Linked DNA regions of Homo sapiens: region 2 is linked to region 1. The links come from fine-mapping of genetic effects on gene expression. A gene starts in region 1. The other region holds a variant in brackets. All regions are shown on one strand. Distances are from middle to middle.

The links. PIP is the estimated chance that this variant, and not a neighbour inherited with it, causes the effect.
Region 2: its variant is fine-mapped to the expression of FUT8-AS1 in whole blood (TOPMed, PIP 0.94).

What each region holds. Positions count from the first base shown.
Region 1 is chr14:65,410,764-65,413,666 of GRCh38, forward strand. It overlaps FUT8-AS1 (FUT8 antisense RNA 1), which reads right to left and starts at 1,854. Exons shown (of 1, transcript NR_024334.1): 1 at 1-1,854. It overlaps FUT8 (fucosyltransferase 8), which reads left to right and starts at 1,967. Exons shown (of 11, transcript NM_001371533.1): 1 at 1,967-2,451. RefSeq lists enhancers at 1,146-1,465, 2,708-2,903 and silencers at 2,006-2,165, 2,466-2,585, 2,596-2,785.
Region 2 is chr14:65,500,945-65,503,847 of GRCh38, forward strand. The region is part of intron 2 of FUT8 (fucosyltransferase 8); the gene reads left to right. Among named protein-coding and RNA genes, the nearest start is that of MIR625, 31 kb to the left of the region's middle. RefSeq lists enhancers at 547-606, 637-806. The variant T/G (reference allele first, on the strand shown) is at 1,293.

The DNA.
Region 1 (2,903 bases):
GTTCTTTTTTTTAAATTTTATTTTTAATTTTAGACATGAGGGTCTTGCTATGTTGCCCAGGCTGAAGTGGCTACTGACAGGCACGATGTGGCACTGCAGCCTGGAACTCTTGGGCTTAAGTGATCCTTCCTGCTTCTTCTATCTTAAAAAAAAAAAGTTACGCTTGCTTGTTAAAATATTTTTAAAATGCTGTGTTTAAACTAAGAAGTAAATATCCACCCCACCTCTGACTTCTAAAAATTATCTAAAGTATGACTGGTAAGATTTTTACCTTTAATCCCACATAAGTCTAAAATTTGTGTTCATTTCCAACAACCAAAGTGTGTCACTTTTATACCAGAATTTTGTCCTGCTTATACGTTTAGTACAGAAATCTCATGGGAGAGAGCATCCATGCATTTACAAATTGTTATTGAATTATTTTATTGAATGATGACACCCAAACTGAGCTAGAACATAATTCTGGCTCTGCTAGTACATCTTCTGTGTGATCTTGGACAAGTCACTCTACTTTCCTTTCAATTTTCTTTTCTCACAGGGAGATAATCATAAAAACGACTGTAAAGTACAGCACTTCATAGAGTGCTTTTTGTTTAAAGAGCTGACAATAAATACGAGTCTCAAGGTCTAGGAAAGCCTCCCTCACAACCTGAGCTGCTTGAGGACAAGGGATTTTCTTTTGAATCAGCAGTACCTTATTTGTGTATCTGTGATAGAGTTCCTGGTACATAAGAAGGTCTCAATAAATATGTGAATTTATGAATATTAGGCAGATTGCAACCTTGACAGGCCACTGCCTCTTAAATCTCCTTTCTGTGATCTTTTAATATTTAACATCTAAAAGGCCGCCGCTACTTGCTTTGGGATAAGTATCCCCGGTATGTACTTTAAAATGCCCAAGCCTAGAGAAATGATTCTTGTCTTAAGGGCACCATTTCGCTCTCCCACCGTAAAGCGCCCCAGGCTTGGGATCTGGGTCCCAAGGCTACAGGGAAGAGTTTGGAACGGGAAGCTCATCTTCCGGCCCTCTGATTGGCCGGCTCGCACTCCACTCACGCGGCGCGCAGCTCTGATTGGCCTCGGCGGCACCCCTCGTCCCGCGACTACTTTGTGTGCTGGGGCGGCGCGCTCCGGTCCTCCCGCTCAGCTGGCGGTCTGGGCTGCTCTGGGGCAGCCCTTCGGTCCACTGCTCTGCATCGCGGGCGCCGGGAATTTTCCGAGTCCGAGCGGGTAGGACGCATCCTAGGGCAAAGCCTCTCCCCTCTCCCCGTGCTGTTCTCTTTCCCGTACTAAATAAACTTCCGCCTCAGAGGGGCTGTCGCAGCCGCGGGTCGGGAGAGGCCGGGCATCGAACTCAGGCCCTCGTGGGGGGGGTCTTTCTCTTCGAGTGAATGTGGAAACAGCTCTTACAAGATAAAGTAGGGCTTCGCTGAGTCTCCTGGGGGAGCGATGCCATTGTAGGATCGCGCTGGAAGCAGCAGTCAAGCGGCCAAATGCGGGCTGCAGGGGCTGAGCAGCAGCAGCGCGCACCCCTAAAAGTAGCAAGGAGCCAGCTTCAAAACCTCTAGTGCGGGTGCCCCCTAGGGCCGCCGACTGAGCTGGCACGGGCCGGTCCATTCCCGGCGCTGTAGGGAGCACAGCATTCTCTGGAGGCGAGTCTCCTCCCGGGATCCAGGATCCGCTCGCGCCCCGCTCAGCCTCCGGCCTTCAGGCGGTAGAGGGCGGCCTACGCCTGTGTGCGAGCCGGAGCCGGCGTGCGCAGCCGCTGCCCTGCTGGAACTGTGCCGTCCCGCTGTGGCCCGCGGCTCTGCTAGGCGGTGGATGCTGCTGCTACGCTCTCCACCGGCGCAGCGAGGAAGGGGGCGGGGAGAATCCCTGGCACATGCCAGGGTCGCCGTAGGTGGCAGCGGCCGGCGCATGCGCGCCCTCTCCCAGAAGCCAGGAACGCCGAGGGGCGCGCTCCCCCATTCGCGCGCGCACGCCGGCGCTGGCCGAGGCTTCCCCGCCTGCGCTCGTTGTCAGAGCCGCTCCGGCGCGTGCGCGCGTTATCTCCGGCCGACCCGAGCAGCCGGTTCCCTCCTCTCCAGGCCCCCTCCCCATCCCACCCCCGCCGCCTGGCCCCAGCCGACCCGTCCCTTCGTCTCCCCGCGGAATGGGGCCGGCACTGCTCAGGGTCGCGCGCCCTGGACCCAGCTCGCTCTCGGTCTCGCGCTGTCAGCGACTGCCCGGCTCGCGCCGCCTCGCGCTCTGCCTCAGTCAGTGGCGCCGAAGGCTCCGTTAAGCGGCGGCGGCGGTTCCTGTTTCCGTTTCTTCCTCTCCGTTCGGTCGGGAGTAGCATCCTCCACTCAGCCACCCTTCCCACTCCCCCATCGTGGGGCAGCTGCGGCTGAGGGCTGTGGCTTTGGCAGCTGCGACGGGGAGCGGCGGAGACCGCCTCTGCTCCCGCCTGGGGTAAGGGGGCGTTTTGGGAGCCGGGCCCCGCGCGCCTCGGGGTCTTGGGCTGGGCTGCGCGCGGGATCTGAGGAGGCTCCGCGGCTGTCCCTGCTCGTTCACCCGGGCCTGTTGCTGCAACTGCTGCCGGTTAACCAGCGGCTCTCGGAAAAGTGGGGAGGGAGCCCCCGGGACGCTCTGGCGGATGCCTTGGCGCAGCCCCGGGGGCGCGGGCAGAGGGTGAGGGGCGCCCGCCTCTCCAGCCGGGACGCGGAGCTGCGCCGCTGCTGCCCTCGGCGTCGCGCATCCTTGCCTAGGGCAGGGGCCAAAGCCTAGGGAAGGAGAAGGGTTGGGGGCGGGGGTGGGAGGTGTCCGTCGTTTCCCCTCCACACCTACCTTCCCTTCGTCAGCAGCTCGGTCCCTGGAGTCGCGGTTTGTGGGGAGGAAGATGCCCGTGCGTTATGGGCTCTTTC
Region 2 (2,903 bases), 90 kb after region 1:
CTTCCTCAACTGTGCTTCTTGTATCCATTTCCCATCTTGCACCTATTTTGGAGGAGAGGCAGTAAATATTTTCTTATGGACTTACCATGTTTGGGAAGACCGTTTTCCAAAGCGATCAAGATCATGTTAAATTTTATTCCATCTAGCCATGATGGCTCAGTTAGGATCAGGTCAGGAAAACAGTCCACACTAAATACTCGAGGCAGGAGGATTTCTTGAGACCAGGAGTTTGAGACCAGCCTGGGTAACATAGTAAGACCTGTCTCTACAGAATTACAAACAAAAACAAAAAATTTCAGCCCAGAAAATTTAATACAGGGAAGGGATTATACAGGTATTGGAGGGCTGAAAAAGCAAACAGGGAACACTGGGGTAACACAGAGACAATATTTGCAGGAATTAGCCACTATTCATATGGTTGAGGGGGAAATAAGAACTTGGAGTTGGGACCTCATAGAATTGGGGTTCAAAACCTCTGGAGGGGGTACTTCCTGACAGCTGTTGGTATGTCTGAGGGGAATTTCTGAGAGTGCCAGAAAAAGCTGGTGGTTATCACTGCTACTGCTGGGGTGGAGGATCTATGCTGGGCAATGCTGACTGGAAAAAGCATGTACTGCATTCTCCCTCTAGTGTCCTTATTGGCAGTGTGAGGAAGCTAGCTGCAGAAGAGAAAAGTAGTTTTCAGAGTTTTATTTTCAGTATTACAAAGATGAGTATTAAAGGGTAGATTTGGATCTGAGAGAAAATAGCTGAATAACCAGTATATATAGCCTTCTCTTCTGGTCAAAGGAGGCCATAGGCCTTTGGTCTCTTGGTCTCTTTTCCTAGCTACTTGGACCCCAGACCCAGATATTCTTAATGCTGAGGGTTTGGAAGGAAAGTTGTTATTATTATTTAAAAAATTAATTTGTTTAGTTAATGTGATGGGGGAGGGGGCATGAGACGGGTCTACTTTGTCTTTTCTTTTCTTTCTTTTTTTTTTTTGAGACAGTGTCTTGCTCTGATGCCCAGGCTGGAATATAGTGGTGTAATCTTGGCTCTCTGTAGTCCCGAGCTCCCAAACTCAAGCAGTCCTCTCACCTCAGCCACCCAAGTAGCTGGGACTACAGGCACCTGCCACCACACCCAGCTAATTTTTGTATTTTTTGTAGAGACGAGGTTTTGCTATGTTGGCCAGGCTGGTCTCGAACTCCTGGCCTCGAGTGATTCACCCATGTTGGCCTCCAAGTGGTCTGGGATTACAGGTGTGAGCCACCATGCCTGGCTGGGTCCACTTATTTATTGTTATTTTT[T/G]TTTTTGAGACAGAATCTCACTCTGTCACTCAGGCTGGGGTGCAGTGGTGGGATCTCAGCTCACTGCAATCTCCACCCCCCAGGTTCAAGTGATTCTCCTGCCTCAGCCTCCCGAGTAGCTGGGATTATAGGCACCCACCACCATGCCTGGCTAATTTTTGTCTTTTTAGTAGAGACAGGGTTTCACCATGTTGCCCAGGCTGGTCTCGAACTCCAGACCTCAAGTGATCTGTCCGCCTTAGGCTCCCATAGTGCTGGGATTACAGGTGTGAGCCACCGTGCCCGGCCCGGGTCCACTTATTCTGAGATAATTCTGTTACAGCTTTTTTTGGTAACTTACATTTAATCATTAGATACTCCTTCTTTGCCTCTTGAGGTATTTCTGTTTTTTAAAAGCCCTTATTTAAAATGTAAAATAAATAATGGTAAAAGTAATGATGTTACCCATAAACAAAGTTTTAAAATTGGTTGCTTATTAGCCAAACAGTGGTCTGCAGTGGTAACCAACCTCTGAAAAGATTATGCCTTTTTTACTCATTCAAAAATTCCCCCTCCTGCAGAGCTTCTTCAATTTTAATGTGTATATGAATCAGTTGAGGATCTTGGTAAAATACTGATTCTGATTCAATATGTCCCTGGGTAAGGCCTGAGATTGTGCATTTCTAACAAGCTCCCAGGGGAGGCTGGAGCTACTGGTCCCTAGACCAGACTTTTTTAACTCCCTTCCCTCCCTTGAGAACTACTGGTTTGGCTTAGATCCAGTGTTGGACTTGGATGGTTGAGTGGTGAGTGATCATAAAGTAAGAGTTTCTATTGTAAGCCTGCCCGTCTAGAAATATTTTGAGCAATTTTAGTAGAGCTATTTATAGCTGTTTCTTTCCAGGTAGGATCAGAGAAATATATGCTTCTGAATAGGTTAAATTTTCTTCCATAATATAATGCTGCCCTGAATGCAGAAATGTGCCTATCACTTGTAATTTTCCTGGAAGGCGTGAGACTGCTTGGTAATTGTGTACATATTTAAGGGAAACTGAGTAATGGAGGACAGAATAGAACAATTAACAAATTCATGCATCAGATAACTTGCTTTCATTAAAGCCATTGTTACTCTTATTTATTGATTGTTCCTGATGATAGGACATCTGCAGATTTCAAAAAGTGTGTTTAGTGTGAATTTCATACTGATGGCATTTCTCTGCTTTTGACAGTTTCATATACTTAAACTTGTCATTAAAACACAGCATCTTGCCTTGAGCCAAATGAAACTTTGAATAGAGCCCAAATTTATGAAATTGTTAATTTCTCTTTACATCTAGATTTTACTTTCAGTAATTTCTATCTGCTAACACAAATAGAAAGGTAATCTTTCATTTGGTTGCCATCCTTCAAGAGCCTCTCTCTGCCCTTCCCTCCCTGCCTTCCTGGATCTTTCCTTTTGTCTTTACAGACCTAGATTTTGAAAGGTTCTAGGTTCCTTTTGTCTGTTGATACTATGTGAATGTTATCCTTAAGTTTTTAATTCAGGCTACAACTAGACAGATAATGTGTCTCACAATTAGCTGGGGTGAGAGAGTTAAAATGGAAGTTAAGGATTCAGGGGATTCCTACAGA